Regions from separate parts of the Homo sapiens genome. Here regions 1 and 2 are each linked to region 3. Evidence: fine-mapped expression QTL. A gene starts in region 3. Each other region holds a variant in brackets. All regions are shown on one strand. Distances are from middle to middle.

Region 1 (7,013 bases), 34 kb after region 3:
AGTATCAGGGTAATGCTGGCCTCATAAAATGAATTTGAAAGTATCTCCTCTTCAATTTTTTGGAAGAGTTTGAGAAGGATTGGTGCTAATTCTTTAAATATTTCATAGAATTCACCAGTGAAGTCATCTGGTTCTGGTCTTTAGAAAGGGAAGAAGATGGGTAAACTGAGACACAGAGAGTTTAAGTGACTTACCTAAGGTCACATACCTAGTAAGTGACAGAGCCAGGAGTTGAACACAGACATTCTGCTGCCATAGTTGATGCTTTCAGCATTATGCTAAGCTGCCCCTTTTCTCTCTTGCTGGTGTGGCCATGGTCACCCAGTGCTTCTGTTGAGATTGTTTGAAACAAGCAATAGCAGTTGACTCTTGGTGACTTCATCATGTGGGGATTTAGTAGCTGGATGCTGGGGCAGCTCCCAGAACCTCAGAATTCCTAAACAACCAAGCATGGGAGGGCAGGGGCCATGACTCTGTCCTGAAGAGGACTCTGCCCTGATATCCTTCAGCCTTTTTGTGCAGCTCTGCAGGTACCAGGTTCCTGGGGACAAGATTCTGTTGAGATGGGTATCTGTGTCCTGTTGGGTCAATGAGGGGCTGTTTTGGTTTTCTATTGCTGTGTCACAAACTACTCCAAAACTTAGTGTTTAATAAAACTGAAAACAATAAATTTTAGTATTCTATTTCATGGGTCTGTGGGACAGGAATCAGATGGGGACAGGGGAATGGCTGTTTTCTGCTCCATGACATCTGGGACATTAGTCAGGTTGACTTGAAGGGTTGGGGACTGGTGGGCCTGTCTTTCTCTCCACGTGGCCTCTTCACATGGCTGACTTGGGCTTCCTCATAGCCTTGCAGCCTTAGCAGTCAGGCTTGTCACATGGCAGCACATGGCTCCAAGAGGAAGGAAATAGCAACTGCCAGTGTCCTACAGTCCAGGCTGGCACAGGCCTGGCATCACTCTTGCCTTACTAGATTGGCCGAACCAGTCCGTGGCCATTCTAGATTCAAGGGGAGGAGACCTGGATCCTGCTTCTCTATAAGAGCAGGTGAAAGAATGTGCAGCCATCTTCAGTTGGCCACTGGGAGGTGGGTGTATATTGTGAGTCTGACCGCTAGGCTCTCACATGTCTGGGCAGCCACCTTAGTCAGCAGGTGCAGTTCCAGAGTTCAGTCCCCTGGCCTGGCTTCCAGGGTTGGACCATCCCTCTTCATTTGTCTTCCCTCTTGCTTTAGGCTGCTTGAGGAGTGGAGAGTGTTGCAGGGGAGGGTAGAGGTCAGGAGAATGGCTTTGAGAGAGACTGTGGGGGTAGAATAATGACCCACTCAGATGGCCACACTGTAATCCCCCAGAAGCTGTGCTATGTCACTTGCATGGTGAAAGACTTTGCACATATGAATAAGGCAATAGGATATCCAGGTGGGCTCCATCTAATCCCACATCCTTAATGCACAGAACTTGCTCCAACTAGAGGCAGAGGAAGTGAAGCAGAAGGGGAGGTCAGAGAGATTCAAAGCAACTTTACCCGCCGTTGCTGGCTTTGAAGATAAACAGGGCCACGAACCAGGGCAGGTGGTGGCTGTAGTCGCTGAGAATGACCCCTGGCTGACAGTCAGCAAGGAAAAGGCGACCTTAATCCCTCAGTCGCGTGGAACTGAGTTCTGCCAACCACTGAAATGGCCTGGAGGTGGATACTCCCCCAGAGCCACCACATAGGAGCCAGCCCTGTCCTTGACTTTGGCCTTGTGAGACTCTAACAGAGAACCCCACCAAGCCTGTCCAGACGACAGAACTCTGAGCTAAAAATGAGTGTTCTGAGCCACTAAGTTTGTGGTCATTTGTTATGGAAGCAGCAGAAAATGAACGCAGATGCTGGTACCTGCTCAAAACCAGGGAGAGAAAATTGAATCCTCCCAGAGTGGCATGTGGTTCCTGCCAGCACCCATGCTGTGGCCCAGCCTTGGAGGGCGCCAGTGGGCCAGACATGCTCATGGTGCTCAGAAGCTCCTGGGTACTTCCTAGAGGACCTCCTGGAGAGCCTACTGGGCAGGGAGGCCCTGGACAGGTGCGAGTCAGGAGTGAGGTGTGCGCCTTGGGAGGTGGGGAAGGAACTGCCTGCTGTGTAGTGTGATTTCAGCATGTTGCATGGGCTGGGGTCATTGTATCGTGAGAGCTTCTGACCCCCATGAGCTTTCTTTGTCTCCCGTCCCCTTGAGAAAGGTTCATTCCTTCCTGCTGGTCCATCTCCCTTCCTCGCCCATAGGGGGCTTACCTGGACCAACCCCTGCTTGGGGATGTAGGTCTGGAAAGTCTCTGATAGGCTCCACCCAACTGACTTGGTTTCCCCAGGTGAGCTATCGCTGAGGCTTGAAGGCCAAAGAGTGTGTGTAGCCACGGCTCTTGGTGCCAGATGCAGGGGTGGCTGCATCTGGGCAGGTCTAGGGTATCTCTCTGACCCCCGGATGGTGCTGTGTGTGCTGGAAAATTCTCAGGGAACCCTCATGGCCATGACATCTCCAGGGCTCTTAGGAGGAGAAAGGGTGGGCCTGTTGTGCAAAAGTGCTTTCAGATTTATTTAGGTAGGACTCTCCCAGAGGGGACATTGAGGCCAGAGTCTGTCTTGGAAGTGTGGTAGGGCAGTGGTGGCTCTGGACGGGAATGTGGCACACATGCCTCAAATGGCTCCATGCAAAGGGTAGGGAGTTGCAGGATTTGTACCCCAATTATGGAGAGCCATTGGTCGAGGGTTCCCCAGCACTTCTGCCCATAGCTCTGCAAGAGGCCTTTGGTGCAGAATGACTGAAAGGCCCAAGGGATGTGGGTGAGGCCCTGCCAGTCAGGGTCACAGCTGGGCATTTGTCCCAGGCTCTTCCTGAGGGGCTGTGTAGTAACCCCCCGCAGCTGTGATCCCTCTGGGTCATCCCGCACTGGGGCACAGCGTGGAGGACACCTCCTTTTCCTGGGGTCTTGAGGCCCACTGTGCGTGCACCCCTCTTCTCTGCTCTGGGCCTACCCCTAGGTTAGCCATGGAAGCTAGGGTCCTCCTGGCTTCCCCCTGGGCCTGGCTGAGCAACATTGGTCATTGAAGAGCAGGTGTGGGATCAGGAGGGCCTTCTCCTGAAGGTAAGGTGGGCAGGCAGCTCCCAGTCATCCACTGGGGTGTGGTTTCTGATCTCTGGACAGTGAAGGCTCTTGGCCCACACAAGTCACTCTAGACAGGGCCTGGCCACATGGGACACCTTTGGGCTTGGCCTCTGGTTGTCCAGCTTTCTTGTTCTCTGCCTCTCGGTATTTCTCTGTCACCTTGATTGCTGCAGGTGGCATGATGGCCTCTTTCCTGGGGTTTGCTCCTGGGCAGACAGGAGAGAAAGGTGGAAGTCTGGTTGGGAAATTGTCTTTATGCTGCTGACTCAAGGAGGAAGAGCTGAGCTTCAAAGTAATTTATCTCTGGTTCCTTCCCCTCAGCCTCAGAACTGGACAAAGGCCTGGTGCTTCTTCATGGCACACAAAGGCTGGAGAGCAGGCAGCCCCTCACTTTTTCCATTGAGTCTTTTACTCAAGATTGGACTGAGTTTCTCACACTCCTAGGCCTGGATGTCCTATGTGAGTCAGAGCTATGAGGGTTAAAGTCGGGAGGAGACTGATCAGAAATGTCTGTGTTGTCTCTGTTAGCCAAGTGCAAGGTGGTTATCACCTTCAACCAAGGACTCCGGGGTGGGCGCGTGGTGGAGCTGAAGAAAATAGTGGATGAGGCTGTGAAGCACTGCCCCACCGTGCAGCATGTCCTGGTGGCTCACAGGACAGACAACAAGGTCCACATGGGGGATCTGGACGTCCCGCTGGAGCAGGTGGGTTACCTCGCTTTGCACAGTTTGAGG[C/A]GAGGTCATATCAAGTTAGCTGGCTCTGAGGCTTCTCGGGTTGTGGTTCTCAATTTGGGTTCCCTAGAGGTGCCCAGGGTTCCTCTGTGGTATTTGGTGAGCTTGAGTCCTGACTGGGAAGATAAAACTCCTATACGACAAGCATGTTGGAACACTTACTGTAACACAAATGCTTGCACCCACGCTTTTGTTTTGTGTCCTTTCCACATTTGGAATTGAACTTGGACAGGTCAGAGCAGGTGAATTCTGAATCCTGTGTGTGGAGTCCTGCTGCGGAGGGGGAGTGCTGCTCTCAGAGAGGCTGAGTGCCCTCGGTGGGCTGTTTGTTTCTTCTCCCTGCCAGGAAATGGCCAAGGAGGACCCTGTTTGCGCCCCAGAGAGCATGGGCAGTGAGGACATGCTCTTCATGCTGTACACCTCAGGGAGCACCGGAATGCCCAAGGGCATCGTCCATACCCAGGCAGGCTACCTGCTCTATGCCGCCCTGACTCACAAGGTACAGGCCTGTGCGGGCGGTGCTGGGCCCTTGGCAGGGATCCAGGCAGGGGCAGGGCTGGAAGTCCTCCTGCTGCAGAGCGAGGCCTGTAGGTGTGAGAGGTCAGTGTTTCTTCCTGGCCTATTCGGGGCAGGGCCCCCTCGAGTCCTCCCACCCTACAGCTCCTCAGGGCCCTGGCTGCCTCAAGCCCCCACTGCACTGTCTGGAAACTCCCAGATAATCTGATCATGTAACGCGGCAGCAGGACACTAAGGGCCATTCGCCCAAAGATTTTTAAAAACTCTTTTTAGAACAGATAGAGAAAACCACCCAAATTAAATGCATGGCTTAATGAATTATTATAAGGCAAATGCCACTTTGATCAAGAAGTGGAAGGCCACCGGTTTCTCAGAAGCCCCTTCCAGGCCCATATGGCCACAGCCCCGTCCAGCATGTCTTGATGTGTCTTGTGCGCCTGCCCTGTTTTTATTTTGATAGTTTTGTGACCCATATGAGCATCCGTGGGCACTGTAGCTTACTGTTGCCAATTAAAATATTGTTTTTTCTTTTGTTTTGTTTTGTTTTGTTTTGTTTTGTTTTTTCATGGAGTCTCACTCTGTTGTCCAGGTTAGAGTGCAGTGGTGTGATCTCAGATCACTGCAACCTTTGCCTCCTGGGTTCAAGTGACTCTCCTGTCTCAGCTTTCTGAGTAGCTGGGATTACAGGCACCTGCCACCACACCCTGCTAATTTTTTTTTGTATTTTTAGTAGAGACAGGGTTTTGCCATGTTGGTCAGGCTGGTCTTGAACTTCTGACCTCAAGTGATCTGCCCGCCTTGGCCTCTCCAAGTGCTGGAATTACAGGTGTGAGCCACCGTGTCCGGCCTAAAATATTGTTGATATGTGTTTTAAGTCTTTTTAAGCCTATGCTCCCCCATTTCCTTACACTTGGCCATAGTCACATCCAGCCATTTTTCTCTGGTGTCCTTTGGTCTGGGTTGTGCCTGTTGTCCCTCTGCCTCTGTGTTTCCTGCACGTGGGCAGTTAGATCCTGAGATGGGATCAGGCTCCACTCAGTTGCTGTGGAAGAATAAAGGGGATTCGGATGTCTGTCCTCTCATGCTCCTCGAAGCTGATGATGCTTGATGCCATTCTTGGCCTTTTTTGCTTTTATTTTTTGTAGTTCTTAAGGGGTTTAAAAAATCGTGGCATAAGGTAATGCAAAAAGGTGTCCATGTGTTAAACGTACAACTAGACGGACTCTGCAGTGTGCCCACCTGTCCTGCTGCTGGAGGCCATTTGAGGAGCCAGCTGCCTCTCACAGCTATGGACTGCAGCCTATGCATGCCTATTTCCTAGTGACCTGGTGTGAACATGGTGGAGTGGGGGGACAAGCTCCTGATGCTCCTTTCCTGTCTCTGCAGCTTGTGTTTGACCACCAGCCAGGTGACATCTTTGGCTGTGTGGCCGACATCGGTTGGATTACAGGACACAGCTACGTGGTGTATGGGCCTCTCTGCAATGGTGCCACCAGCGTCCTTTTTGAGAGCACCCCAGTTTATCCCAATGCTGGTAAGGATGGTGAACCCTGTTTGGGACCCCATGCTGGTGTCAGGGGAGAGAGCCTGAGGCTCGAGGCTTGTGGAGAGGTTCATGGAAGGGGGACGCCTGGGTTCTGGTGAGGGTGTGGCTCTCCAGGTCCTGCTGTCGAAATGCCCGGTGGGGCCAGGCCCCAGGTCTTCAGAAAGATCTGACAGGCAGCAGCAGGGAGTCTGACTTGGTGCTGGAGGACATCTCAAGGCCCCTGCTCCTGCACTCCTGCCCTCTGACTTAAACTGCCGGCCTCAGGCCATCGCTTTGGCATCCTTCTCACCTCTAGGCTGCTTGCCCAGATCCAGCCCTTTCTCAAAGCCAGGGCCAGCTGCCCGCCACTTCTGTGTCCCCAGCCCTGCCCCTGAGCCTTCAGGGCTGTCCCTCAAACCATGTTAGGCATGGCCTAGAACCATCTCCATTAAATTGAGATCACTTTGAAGACAAGGTGATGACTGGCTCCCTTGGGCATCGTCCTCCCACACAGCACAGTGTCTTCAAATATTTTCTTTAATGTAAGCAGATCATGGTGGCTCTGCCCAAAGGCTGCTGCTCCAGTGTTCCATGGCACTGACAACTGTGCATGGACTGTGTTATCACCTCCCAGTGCTCCATCCCTGCCTTTGGGGGCTGGGTGTGCTCAAGGAAGAAGTTGTAGGGGCAAGACCAGGGATTAAGGGCCATGGCCCAGGTGCTGTCTCAGGCCACCACTTCAGCCCTTAGAAGCTCAGTGTTCCATGTGGAGGGGATGGTGTGGGTAGTGGGTTTACAGGAACCAGGGGTGTGCATGCCGGGCACATGGCCCTGCTCCCTGGGACACACGCAGTGGCAGCTGTACTGTCACCAGGGGAAGCACCAGTCACCACTTTAGAGCCCATGTGAGTGTGATCGAGTGAAAGCTCTGTGTTAATGCTCCATGGGTTATTAAATCCACGTAGTATCACCTTGAACTAGGCCATCACCCTAAGCCTGGTGAAGACTGTTCCTGAATGTGCCGCCCATGGATCTGGGGAGTGCTTGGAGGAGAGCGGCCATTGGGGACCTGTCCCATGGGGCTTCTTTCCATCTT
Region 2 (7,013 bases), 250 kb after region 3:
GCATCTACTGGAAGCACGTGGAGGCCTGAAGGAAGGCTACTTGTATCCTTCTCACTGAGAAACGTTTTGGGAACATGGTATGGACTAGGTAGGAGTTAAACCGTCACTGGGCAGAGACAGGCAGGACTATGGGTCTTGGGTGGGCTGAACCAGGGCCGAGGAGCTGGAGTCCAGCAGGGTGTCGGCTGGTCTCAGTTCACACGGCCAAGGGCCCAGGCTCCTGTCTGCCAGGGTGAAGGTGGTGGGGGTGAATCAGAGAACCTGGTCACTTTTGGGGACAGTTAATCTGGACACAAAGAGGCAATAATCTTCCTGGGTGTGAGGTGCTCAGCAGCCAGCCTGGACTCCACTAGGAGGAGAGGAGGAGGTGGGCCGTAGGCTTGAGCTCCCCCATGCCTCTTTCTCCCTCCCAGGGCTGAACATCTAAACTCTATGCCTCATGCTGTCAGTCCTTCCCTGGTGTTCACCAGCAACCCCTGGTTTGTTCTCGGTCCTTATCATGTTACCTCTGGAGGACTGATTTTAAACATTAAGAAAGTGTCACAGACACAAGGTGAGTGTCTTGAATTTCTGGAAAACAGAGACCTGAAGCTCCCAGGGATGCAGCCACCCTTCAGCCTGAGTGTGCATTACTGACCACCACACCATCGACGTCTTTTTGAAAAATGGCCCCATTTATGAGTGGGAGGCATATTGCTCTTTGATTTATGGGTCATTCTTGCAGCATTTATTGATCCGCAGCCCCCCTGCAATCATTCACAACCCACAGGGCACAGCCACCATGGCTCCACCAACCGGGGCAACTGCACAGACTGCAAAGAGACAGGGACGGACTTTGTGGCCTCTGATGTCCAGGCAAGCTGGTTCCCAAGTCCCAAACAGCTCTTAAAGCTGAGCGTGTGCACTTATTCCAAGTACACATAGCAAGGAGGGAAGAGAGAGAAGAGAGAATTTAAATACCCTCACCCATTCCATTTTCACCTTCCTGATCAAGCGTAGCTCTATTTTCCATGAGGAATATGAAAAACAAATTTATGTCAAGCGGGTGAGAGACCTAGTGGAGGGTCTTTCTGTTTGTGTTGATGATGAAATGGACTCGAGCTTATTGAAAAGTATTTGCAGGTGTCCCATAGAAGGGTATGTGTGCCGTGGTTACTCCTCCAGAGCTGCAGTGATGGACATAGAGCCATGAGTCACTCTGGAGGCTTCAGCCGGTGCTGGGGTCCCCAGGAGAGCAGGGGACAGGCTCCTCTGGAAGGCTGGCTAGCCCTGGTATGGCTGAGGGCTCTTCTGCTGGGCTGAGAAGACAGCCTATTTTAACAAAGAAGAGAAGGAAGTTTTCATTTCTGCTTTCTTGTTGTGGATCAAAGAGATAAAAGTGCAGTGTGTGGCACCAGAACACCAGCACCCGCTGACCTCTTTGAAATCAGATTTTCAGGGACCCACCTCACCTCTGTCTCTGTCTCTCTGTCTCATACACAGAAACACACACGCACACGTGTGCACACGTGCACACACACGCACACACGCACACACACGCACATGCACACACACGCACACACATGCGCACACACGCACACGCACATGCATGCACACGCACACACACGGAAACACATGCACACACATGCACGCACACACACACATGCGCGCACACACACACACGCAGACACATGCGCACACGGCACGCACGCGCACACCCACACCCACACGCAGACGCGCACACACACGCACACACATGCGCACGCACACGCGTGCGTGCACACACGTGCACGCACACACACGCACACACACGCTCGCACACACACACACACATCTCCTGTGAACATTACTGCCTTCGTCATGGTTTCTCATTCTTGGTCAGAAGCCCCTGTCCCCCTAGTCCCTTGCCACTCTAAAAGGAGATTCTTGGATTCTGTTCCACACCTTTTGAGTCCATGGGCAAGCCTAGAATTTGCATTTTTAGTAAGTAAGCCAGTGGTTCTGATGTAGACAGTCCACATATTACAGTGATGTCTGGACACACCGTTTAGAGATGTTTCCGACTGTTGAAGTCCATGACTTGTCACGTTTTCATGCTGCATCCACTGACAGGAGCTGACTACTTAAGGAACAAATGTAAATCTTGTCTTACAACTAGGTGGTTTGGGTATGCTGAGTGATAGACATGTCCCACTTTAAGCAAAACACAAACACAAAAACCTAAGTCTACCAAACAAATACCGGAGTTATTTGTTTGTACACTTTGTAAAACAAAACTCATCGCAGCAGAGAGGGGAGTGGAGGAAGCCTTGCTGAGAGCTGCCCTTCCCTCGGAAAGCTGAGATCCGGGCTGGCTGGGTCGGCACTCATCCCTGATGCTCTGCCCGGTGGTGGAGGGTGGAGGCTTGATTTCTGCCCCAGACAAAGGTCACTGTGACCCAGGCAAGAGGGTGGGGTGGCATGGGAGCTGCTGGGTGGGGAGGTGGGCACCTAAGAGGGCAGGGACCCCTCCCAAATAGCTCTGGCTCAAGTATTCCTCCCAATCACCCTCTAATGAGCCTTCTTGAGAAATCAGCCTGGGGGCAAAAGGCAGGGAGCACCACCCACCTCCCGAGTCTTGTGCACTGGGGGTTCTAGGAAGGAGAAGGTTTGAGCACCCCAGCCTGGGGTATGGGGCAGGCAGCATCAGGAGGGTGGAATATGGGGCAGGCAGCATCAAGAGGGTGGGTTATAGGGCAGACAGTGTCAGGAGGGTGGGGTATGAGGTAGACAGTGTCAGGTGGGGGCAGGCATGGGACAGACAGTGTCAGGAGGGTTGGGTATGGGTCAGACAATGTCAGGAGGGTGGGGTATGGGGTAGACAGTGTCAGGAGGGTGGGGTATGGGTCAGACAATGTCAGGAGGGTGGGGCATGGGGTAGACAGTGTCAGGAGGGTGGGGAATAGGTCAGACAATGTCAGTAGGGTGGGGTATGGGGTAGACGGTGTCAGGGGGGTGGGGTATGGGGTAGACAGTGTCAGGGGGGTGGGGTATGGGACAGACAGTGTCAGGGGGGTGGGTTATGGGGTAGACAGTGTCAGGAGGGTAGGTTATGGGGTAGGCATTGTCAGGAGGGTGGGGTATTGGGTAGGCAGCGTCAGGGGGGTGGGGTATGGCACAGGCAGCATCAGGAGGGTGGAATATGGGGCAGGCAGCGTCAGGAGGGTGGGATGTGAAGCAGACAGTGTCAGGAGGGTAGGTTATGGGGTAGACAGTGTCAGGAGGGTGGGGTATGAAGCAGACAGTGTCAGGTGGGTGCAGGCATGGGACAGTGTCAGGAGGGTGGGGTATGGGGTAGGCAGTGTCAGGAGGGTGGGGTATGGGGCAGGCAGTGTCAGGAGGGTGGGGTATGGGGCAGACAGTGTCAGGAAGGTGGGGTATGGGGCAGACAGTGTCAGGAGGGTGGGGTATTGGGTAGACAGTGTCAGGAGGGTGGGGTATTGGGTAGACAGTGACAGGAGGGTGGGGTATTGGGTAGGCAGTGTCAGGAGGGTGGGGTAGGGGTGGGCAGTGTCAGGAGGGTGTGGTATGGGGCAGGTAGTGTCAGGCAGGTGCAGACACATGGAGGCCCCCTTTCCCAACCCCACTTCCACTGACTCCTTCCCCTTGTTGGCTTAACCAACCCACCAGGTTCAGAGTTCAAGCCATGTGGGCTGGGTAGGGCGGTTCCCCTAAGCATGTGACCCTGCATGCCCAAACAGAGTGCCTCTCTGCACTAGCAGCCACACGGATTGGTTCCGCCATAGCCCAATCCAGAGTCCCTGAGAATCTTGCTATAATATTGAGGGAGAGGCTCCTCTGGTCACAAGTCACAGTGGGGCCTTGAGATCACATTTGCCCACCTATGGGTTCTGCCTAGATTCAGCCTCCAGAAAGCCTCAGCCCAGAGGAGCAGGAATGAGACAGAT[T/G]CCCGAAGCTGGGCTTGGAGATCCCTTGGCCTGCACTTCCCAGTCCATTTCCTGTGTTCAGGCAAGTGTGTCTGGTGCCTGCCCCAGCTCCCATAGGATGACCAAGTCATGCCTGGAGCAGATGCCTGCACTGCGCCTGGAACTCAGCTGGCTCAGTTAGCAGCAGCAGCCATGGTTGTCCTAGGAAAGGGTGGGGCGTCTCTATGTTCACACTTTAGGGAAAGCTGGCTTTCTCTCCATGGACAATACATTTTTTTTTTTTTTTTACTTTTAATTTTGAAACAATCTCAAACTTAAAAAGAAGATTGCAAGAACAGTATGGAGAACTTTCCCCAGAACCATTTAAAATTAAATTGCTAACATAACGCTCCATCACTCCCAATGCCTTAGTGTGTGATTCACGCAATCCCTACAGAAAAACACTCCTCTGGGAGCACAATGTGGCTATCGAAATTGAGGAATTAGCACACACACTTTATTTATTTATTTATTTTTCCCTTAAAAAACTTTTTTCCTGTTTTTAAAATTTCAACTTTTACTTTAGATTCAGGGGGTGGATGTGCAGGTTTGTTCCATGGGTATACTGTGTGGTGCTGGGGTTTGATCTTGTCACCCAGTCATTGGGCATAGCACCCAACGGTCAGTTTTTCAGCTCTTTTTTTTTTGAGACAGAATCTTGCTCTGTTACCCAGGCTGGAGTGCAGTGGCACGATCTCAGCTCACTGCAACCTCCGCCACCTGGGTTCAAGCAATTCTCGTGCCTCAACCTCCCGCGTAGCTGGGATCACAGGTACCCACCACCACACCCAGCTAATTTTTGTATTTTTAGTAGAGACGGGGTTCCACCATGTTAGCCAGTATGGTCTTGATCTCCTGACCTCGTGATCTGCCCGCCTCGGCCTCCCAAAGTGTTGGGATTATAGGAGTGAGCCATTGCGCCCGGTCTTTTCAGCACTTTAATCGGCCCGTCCTCAGCCCCCTTGAGTGTGGCCAGTCATCTCAGTCATGTCCTTCATAGCCAGGGTCCAGGTTTGGAGTCCCACGCTGCATTCATGCCTCCTTTCACCTGCAGCCGCTCTCTGGCCTTTCCTGACCTTCGTGAGCTTGTTGCTTCTGGAGCCCACAGATCAGTCACCTTCTGTGTGTGTGATGTCTCTTCACACCAGGGCCTGAAGGCAGCTTGGGCCGAGATCACAGGAGCGAGACCATGTTCGCTCAGCGTCCTCGCAAGAAGCTGATCTCGCCCCACAGCTCCAGGGAGGGCCATTGACACTGAAGGTCGCAGGTGCAGGGACGGGGAGGAATTAGGATTTTAGCATCACCAGTGAGACGTGACCCCAGGGAGTCTAGTTCTGGGAATGAGGCAGGGATGAGAATAGCATCTGAGAGGCCAGAGAATCGTGATACTGCTCAGCACTTCCTCTTAGGACTCCAGCACCTACTGCTGTGGAGCCCTGGACACGTTCTCCCCCTGTGCTGGTCTCCATTCCTCTGCTATGAGATGGGAACAGCACCGCCCATCTCCCCGCGCTGCAGGCCGCTGTCCAGGGAGGGTTTGGGTATCAGAGAGCCTAGCACCGGAGGCTCAGCTGGAAGCACAGTGCTCGTTCACCCCGACATCTCATGTTTCTGCTGACCTCAGTGCCCGCCCGAGGTGAAAGCCCTTCTGTACCCCAGCTAAAGGGTCCCGAGTCCTGGGTAGCTCCTGTGACACCATGAACATGATCCCTGACACCCTCAACGTTTCCCAGGATGCTCCTGCCTCTTTTATGGGGTGCCCAAGTCTTGGCTTTGCCCCTAGAGGCCCATTGCCCTGCAGCCCTGCAGATCAGAAGTAGGGCCACGTCCTCCTGGCCCCACGAAGTGTGTGCAGGCCCAGCTTGTCTAATTTGCCAAAGCTCTGCCCCTCATCTCTCCCCCTTCCATTTTCCTCTCAGCTCTCATCAGCAGGGCTGTGACAGCCATGTCAACCCAGGTGTATCAGTGTACTCCCTCAACCTTAGTGACCCTCACCCCACCCTGTCCCCAGAGCCCTGCCCTGGGCCTCCTGAGGAGCTTGCCTTGCACTGTGCCCTGCAGCCCTCACGTGATCTCACAGCCCGCAGCCCCCACATGATCACACAGCCCACAGCCCCCACATGATCTCACAGCCCACGGCCCCCACGCGATCTCACAGCCCACAGTCCCCATGCGATCTCACAGCCAGCAGCCCCCACAGGATCTCACAACCCGCAGCCCCCACGTGATCTCACAGCCCGTAGCCCCCATGTGATCTCACAGCCCACAGTCCTCACATGATCACACAGCCCATGTCTCCCATGCGATCTCACAGCCTGCAGCCCCCACAACCAGCACACTGCCCACTGAGACCAGCCAGCCTCAGAATTAATTGTTCATGGTCTCCAAACTCACTGGACTCCTATTTTAAGGAACACAGAGCGGCCATACCTTGTCCAAACTGCAAGTCTGTGAGAAGGATAATGAGTGATTTGTTTCAAGCCCCTAAGGTTTAGGAGGTTTGTTACACAGCAGAAGAAACCACAAGAGCTAATCTACCTTCAACTCATGGCAAAACTTGCATTTTAAAACCAGAGTGAGCTGGGCGCGGTGGCTCACGCCTGTAATCCCAGCACTTTGGGAGGCCGAGGCGGGCGGATCACGAGGTCAGGAGATCGAGATCATCCTGGCTAACACAGTGAAACCCCGTCTCTACTAAAAATACAAAAAATTAGTCGGGCATTGTGGCGGGCACCTGTAGTCCCAGCTACTCAGGAGGCAGAGGCAGGAGAATGGCGTCAACCTGGGAGGCAGAGCTTGCAGTGGGCCGGAGATCATGCCACTGCACTCCAGCCTGGACGACAGAGCCAGACTCCATCTCAGAAAACAAAAACAAAAACAAAAACAAAAAACCAGAGTGTACTTACACATTAAAGTATCCTATGTTCGTGTATTTTTTGGAAAGCTATTGTACAATTTGCTACAATAAAGTCCTTCCCCTGGAGGCCAGGGGCAGTGGCTCACACCTGTAATCCCAGCACTTTGGGAGGCCGAGGCGAGCAGATCACTTGAGGTCAGAAGTTCGAGACC
Region 3 (7,013 bases):
AGCCCCAATGAGTGAGAGCAGAGGAAGAGGGTACACTGGATCAGGGAGGGCAACGCTTCTCTAACGTGAATGTGCATGCAGCTCCCCTGGGGCTTAAGATGCAGATTCTGAGGCAGCAGGTCTGAGATGGAGCCTGGCATTCTGCATTTCTACAAAGTATCCAAGTGATGCTGCTGGCCCATGGACCACACGTTAAGTAGTGAGGCTATGGCCTGTGGGCCAGGGAATGATGTGGTCTTTGTTTTGAGGAGACTGGGGAGCCTTTGGATTGTTCCAAGCTCCAGAGCAAGTTCCTCTGACTCTTGTTTTAAAGGAATTGCACTGGCTGCTGGTTAGGCTGTCAGGGGCAAGGGTGAAAGCAATTTGAAGCCTACTGAATAATCCTAAAAGAGATAGGTATGGTTAGGATGGTAGCAGGAGGGGATGGTGATGGGGGAAGAGGTTAGTGCTGCAGGTGTTCTGAAGGTGAGTCACAGGATTTGCTGACAGGCTGCATGTGGAGTGTGAGGGGGAGGAATCTAGGATGACAAGGGTATGAGCCCAAACAACAGGAAAATGCCATTTCCATTCACTGACATGGAAGATCCGTGTTGTGGGGAAGAATCCCAGGACTTGGTATGTTTCAGATGTGAATGAGACATTTGAATACAGGACTGAGATGTGGAGGAAAGGTCCAGGCGGGAGGTGTCAATATGAAAGTGAGAGGCTAGAGAGCTGGCTGCTGTTTCCTAGGGGGCAGGGGAGAAAGGGGGATTTGAGGGCTGAGCTCCTGGGCACTTCAACACTTGGAAGGCAGAGAGAAGAAAGGCACCCAGTACAGGGCACTGAGAGGCAATAGTCAGTGAGTGAAAGAACCATGCATTTTTCAGCCTCAGTTGTTGTATCAGTTACCACTGCTGAGTTACAAACCATCCCAAAATTTAGTGGCTTAAATTTATTCCTTCTACAATTCTGTAAGTGGACTGGGAGGTTCCTTTGCATCCCAGGTGTTATCTGGGGTGACTCATGAGGCTGCCTTGGCTGGGACAGGAGCCTCCACATTGGCGTCATTCTTGTCTGGGAGTTGGTCCTGGCTGTGGATGGGACAGCTTCATCCTCGCCCTGGGTCCCTTCCTCTGGAAGGCCAGCCCCGCTTCCTCACAGCTCGCAGCTGGGTTCCATGGGAGGATAAGCTGGGGCTACGGGGTCTCTCAGGACCTCCACATGGAACTGTCACAGCATCCCTCCCACCAGGCTGTACTGGCCAAAGCAATCCAGCCAGCCAGGGTCCTCCTCTGGACAGAGCAGCACACCATCATGTGCAGGCGGTGCAGGCGTGGGAAGGAAGAGTTGGTGGCCGTCTTTGGGACCCCCTGCCACAGTTAGGAGCTTTCTCAGTTTACAATTTTACTACTCACTGACCTCTGCCTCTCAGTGCCCTGTACTGGGTGTCTTTAATATTCTATTCAAATGAACTTAGGCCAACGAGCTCCCCACTGGGGGCACTGGGTGTTAGTCTTGCTCTTCCCTTAGCCAGCTGCATGCTCTTTAGTAAGTCCTTTTATTTATTTGGGCTCAGTTTCCTCATTTTTTCCACCTGGAGTTTGACAGTTGGTGGGAATGGACAGCACTAGATAAGTTTCAAATTAAGTAGACTAGTCGGGTGCCGTGGCACACGCTTGTAGTTCCAGATACTCAGGAGGCCGAGTCAGGAGGATCGCTTGAGCTCAGGAGTTCCAGGCTGTAGTGAGCTGTGATGGGAACCATTGCACTCCAGCCTGGGCTACAGGCCCTATCTCTAAAAAAGTATCATAAATAAATAAAGGAGAAAATGCAGGTCAAGCGCTAGCACTGTGCAGGGCATGTGTTATGCTAGTAGATGTCACTGATTCTCCAGCTCTAGGTACACTCCTGTCTTCTCTGGCAGACAGCAGCATTCCCCAGCAGGGGCTGGTGGCTAGCCCACGCAGAGGCTCCTCCAATGGCAGGCTCCTCCCCTCTGCAAGCCCTACAGCTCAAGGGAAAGAAACTTTCCCATCACAGAGAACTCAATAAACCAGTTTTCCAAAATCTCTCTTCCCTGTGTTTACCCGTTTGTTATGAATTTACTTCTTGGGTGTCAGAATATTTAAGAACTCGGTGGAGACCAGTTTTATACGTTTCCTTCTGTCCTTCCTGGCTCCACAGCTGCAAAAACATCATCCCCACTACTGAGCTTACTATGGGGCCACGCAAGGGTAGACGCTTGACAGACATTGTCCAATGTATTCCTTACTGCAGCTGCCCACCCCCGCCGTCCCCGCCCCCCAGGGAGACATTACTTCCGTCTTCCCCAAAAGGAAAACGAGGCACCGAGAAGTTAAGGAACTTGCTCAAGGTCACAGAGTTTGAACTCAGGCTACAGATGCTGCAGCAACTGGAGAAAGTCCTCATCGCCCCATATCACCCACCACCGACCCCCAGCAGGACGTGACCCCCGCCAGGACGGAGGCCGGCAGCTGGGGGGCTGGAGCATGGGACCCAGAACACGGACTCAGGCTTGCGCAGCCTCCTGGCTTCTAGGCGGGAGCCTAGAAAGGCGCCAGCCCCTTTCGCGTGCTGCTGAGACTCCAGGGGTGGGGTTCACTCTCAGGGGCGCACAAAGGCATGAAAACCTTGGCTTCAGCCTCTGAGATGCGGAACTGACCGACCTATTGTCTTGGGACCCACCAGTGCGCTTGGGTGCACCAGCCCCCTTAACGTTGGTGCCGGCTCCCTCCCGGCTCCTCCCCATCCCAGAGGGTCCCCTCGCCCCAGGCCCTGAGCCTGCGTCCTGGGGTCCTGGGCCGCACGTGCCTCTGGCAGCTCGAAGAAGCTGTCGGGGCTTGCAGGAGAGCGTGCAAACTGAAACCAAAACAGGCCGACTCGAGGAACATCCGGGTGGGACCGCAGACTCACCGGAGCGCAGCGCCTGGGCCAGGGCCTGGGACCCTGCTCCGCCCCGCGCTCCCCTGCACCCCTTCCCCACGCTGCTCCCCTCTTCCTAAGCGGCCCCCCCTCTCCCGGGCAGCAGAAGAAGGGGTGGGACCCGGGCGGGCTCCGGGAGGGGGCCCTGGAGGAATGGATGGTGGCGGAAGGGCGGAGCAGGGGCGGGGCCCGCGGAGACTCCACGGGGCGCCCCGGGCGTGAGGCACCCACTCTGGGAGCACAGAGAGCTCAGGTAGCCTGCCTAGATGGCGGCGCGCACCCTGGGCCGCGGCGTCGGGAGGCTGCTGGGCAGCCTGCGAGGGCTCTCGGGGCAGCCCGCGCGGCCGCCGTGCGGGGTGAGCGCGCCGCGCAGGGCGGCCTCGGGACCCTCGGGCAGCGCTCCCGCAGTTGCAGCAGCAGCAGCACAGCCAGGCTCGTATCCCGCGCTGAGTGCACAGGCAGCCCGGGAGCCGGCCGCCTTCTGGGGGCCTCTGGCGCGGGACACTCTCGTGTGGGACACCCCCTACCACACCGTCTGGGACTGCGACTTCAGCACTGGCAAGATCGGCTGGTTCCTGGGAGGCCAGTTAAATGTCTCTGGTGAGTGGGCTTCGGGAGACCCAGGACGCCCCCAACTCTTGGGTCCCGAGGGGACTCGGAGCCTCTCGCCAGCGGCAGCCGTCCCCGGGCAGCGCGGATCGCAGCCCTGCAGGGGCCCCTCCTCCGGTATTCCGTCCGCCCCGCCCGCTCTAAGCAGTGGCTCCACGTCACCCCGTCCCTCATCCCATCGGGCCCCAGATCCACGTGCCCAGCTCGGGCCGGCGCCCGCGGGGACCCGGCGGCCGCTTGGGACGCCCCGCTGCTGGCCTTGCTCGGCGCGGCTCCTCGCTCGGCGGACTCCAGAGTTGCGTTACCGGGTGCATAGCGCCGCTGAGCAAGAGCCGGCGGGGAGCCGCGGGCTACACCCGAGCGCCCCGGAGTCGGGACTTTCCCGTTCCCATACCGGGGTGGAGGGAAAAACAAAGCGGTGGCGGTTGTCACTGCGGGCTGCGGTGCCCGGGGATCAGCCTGGGGACAAGCCCTGCCCACGTAAACAAACAGAGCTGTGGCGGGCGACCTGGGGAGGAGGAAACTCGGCGTGGCAGCTGGAACCAGTTATTTCTTCGCTGCGGGCCTGGGGCCTGGGGCCTGTGGACGGGAAGGAAGTAACGGCGGCCTCCCCGTTCTCGTTCTCGGCCTCAGAGAACTGCACCCCAGCGACCTGGGGCCTGCTTTGGACCCGCGGGGTCTGACGTCGGCCCCAAACAGTTGACTGGTGGTCAGTTGTTTGGAACTTGCTGAGCAGAGGCCCTGCTGCTCTGCTAAGATTTGGGGCTGGGGGTCGTACACAGCACCCTCGCCCCCACCTAAGGCGCTGACTGGGCACCGAGGGGGAGGCCCTGAACTGCAGGCAGGGCTGGCCACGCAGGGTGGGTGCCAAGTGCGAGGTGGGCTCCGGATGCAGGGTGGGCCTGGGTGTGGGGCCTGCGGGGAGGGGCTGGCAGACACGGTGTTGATCAGAGGGATGCAGACCAGAAGGGTGGTCATAACCAGCTTGCTGGATTTGGGAGTGTTTAAGAAAGGACCTGCGGGTCTTTATGGCAGGGTCACCAGGGCCCCATTTTCTCCAACTCCTCCCTCAGTTGTCCTTGTTGTTCTGCCCCCCCAGCCCTCAGTCTCCTCATTGTGAGGATGGGGGCAGTCATGCTCAGAGGTTAGGCTGAGTGCTGCAAGGTGTGCAGCAGACCCAGCGCTTACTGGTGACCCATAAGCAGTAGCGATTTTAGATAACTTCAGAAATAGTCATACAATTATAGATAGTGTCTTGCAGTTATTTTTCAAAGAAATTGGAAGGAACTTTGGACCTCCCCCACTCCCCGAAATTGTATATTACTTTGCTGGTTTAATTAAAATGAGTCACTTACTAGATAAGTGTTTTCTTTAACATTGAGTCAGCAGCAAGTGCCCTTGAACTAGTGGGAAAAAAACCAAACCCTTTGGTTTGCAGAGTTGGGGCAATGTGCCCTTGAAGGAGACTAGAGCAGCTTGCCCAAGGACAGAGGTGGAAAGTGACCTGCTCTGGACTTGTGAGGCCAAGGTCATGGGGAACATTCACAGTTGGCCTGTGCACACTTGCAGCCCCACTCAGATAAGACAGTGGGGCGGACCTCCTGGGGCCAACAGCAAGGACCTTCTGAACCTCGCTCGGTCAGGATCAGGGTGTGGTCAGCAAGCATTCTTCTGTCTCCTTTTCCTTCACTTATTTCTTCTGATAATATGGCCTTTATGGCTACGTTAGCCAGAAATTGAGCTTCAGAAAACTAACTTGAAAAACAGCTTTTCAGCAGCTTTCTCCCCTGGGATGTGCGTGCCCTCCTGTTCATGGGTCAGCAATATCTCTTTCCTTTGCCGGTGTCTGCAAACCATAGAGAAGACAGTATGAAAAAGGGCCAGGCCAGGCCATGACTCTTCTGGGAGCATCTAGAAAGTCGTGGGATGGATGAGAACACTTTGGTCTGATCTGTCAGCTGTGTGTGATAAAGTCAGATGGCTTGTTCCAAAGGAATATCACTCTTGAAGAAAGCTTCACCTCACCCCCTCAAGAATACCAGTGGTTCTCAACGCATGGTCTTCAGACCTGCAGCATCAGCATTACCTGAGAACTTTTGAGAAATACAAATTCTGGAGCCCATCCTGGACATCTGGAATCAGAAACCCTGGGATGGGACCTGACACCTGTGTTTATAACGAGCCCTTCAGATGCTCCAGAGGACACTCGGGCTTGAGAACCACTGGCCTGTACGCCTCAAACCAGGGCAGATGAAGGCACTTCTAAAACAGAATTGGGATTAGTGTCCTGGCCTTGGCCCTATTAAACAAACAGCAAGCAAATGATGGGCTGTGGATGGCGCAACACAGTTTCGTGGCTCCAGGTGTCTTTAGAATCATGACTCGGGTTGATTTCTTGCTTTCCCTGTACTGTACTTTGCATGTTTCCTCATCTGTAAAACAAGGGCCGTATGTAACTGAATTCTGTCCTAGTTACTATTGATGTACATCAAACCACCCCTAAGTTTAGTGACACAAGATAACAACAATTTTATATTCCTCGCAGAGTCTGTGAGTCAGGACTTTGGACAGGGCCCGATGGGGATGACTCATGTCAAAGGGCAAAATTAGGACAAATTTAGTTTAAAGACCTTACTTCACTTTATTCGTGATTATAGAATTGGGAAACACCCCATTCCATAAAACAGAAGGAATGTTTGATGAGCTGAACAGAGGAGGATGGTTTTATAGACAGAAGGGGCTGAAGGATGCAGACATGGAGAACAAAAAGTGGACTGGTTATTTCAAAGCTACTTTTGTTGTAAAGGTGAAAGTGGAAGGAGCTCCCTTATCATGCCAGCTTGTTTGGAGATTTAGCTATCTTTCACTCTCCTTGTTTCTTAGAAGGTCGGATAAACAACTTAGTTTCCATTTGGTGACACCGCACTTTAGCAAGAGTGACTCCATTTTTGTGTGATCTATTGGGCCTCATGCAGCTCAGTCCAGACCAGTGGCCTCCTATACATTTTATTTAACACTTGCTCCTGCTCCTCAGTGTCTGAGGTTGGAGTCATCTGCCTGTTTCTCACTCCCAAGTCTGGAGCCTTGTTTGGGACAACTTGCAGGCTGGCTTCAGCCAGAACTGTGGCCCAAAGCACCTCCTGGGGCTTGTCACAGCATGGTGGCTGGGCCCAGGCAATTTCCTGCAACCAGAGGTCCAAGAGACCAGCACAGATGTTATCAGGCATCTTCCGACCTGGGGAAGGGGACCTGAGTGTTTGCACCTGTTTTGTTATCCATGGGAGTATCTATCAGCACACCCATCCCAGGGCTGTTAGAATGAAATGAGGAAATGCTTGTAAGGCACTCAGCACTTTCTTAACACATTATACATCCCCAGTCACTGACTATTTGTTATTTATTAATGAAGCATGTGGGGAGGCTGTGACCTTGTGCTTGGCCTTCGGCAGTGCTGCTGAGAGAGCTGAGCTTCATCTGAA

Evidence for each region. PIP is the estimated chance that this variant, and not a neighbour inherited with it, causes the effect.
Region 1: its variant is fine-mapped to the expression of ACSS1 in whole blood (INTERVAL, PIP above 0.99).
Region 2: its variant is fine-mapped to the expression of ACSS1 in whole blood (INTERVAL, PIP above 0.99).

Annotation. Positions count from the first base shown.
Region 1 is chr20:25,020,302-25,027,314 of GRCh38, reverse strand. It overlaps ACSS1 (acyl-CoA synthetase short chain family member 1), which reads left to right. Exons shown (of 14, transcript NM_032501.4): 4 at 3,674-3,849; 5 at 4,223-4,375; 6 at 5,779-5,926. Among named protein-coding and RNA genes, the nearest start is that of APMAP, 31 kb to the right of the region's middle. The variant C/A (reference allele first, on the strand shown) is at 3,880.
Region 2 is chr20:24,807,901-24,814,913 of GRCh38, reverse strand. No RefSeq gene overlaps it. Among named protein-coding and RNA genes, the nearest start is that of LINC02967, 110 kb to the left of the region's middle. RefSeq lists an enhancer at 5,574-6,074. The variant T/G (reference allele first, on the strand shown) is at 3,927.
Region 3 is chr20:25,054,281-25,061,293 of GRCh38, reverse strand. ACSS1 (acyl-CoA synthetase short chain family member 1) reads left to right here and starts at 3,155. Exons shown (of 14, transcript NM_032501.4): 1 at 3,155-3,525. The coding sequence starts at 3,192. RefSeq lists enhancers at 2,674-3,279, 3,930-4,059 and silencers at 2,900-3,429, 3,560-3,829.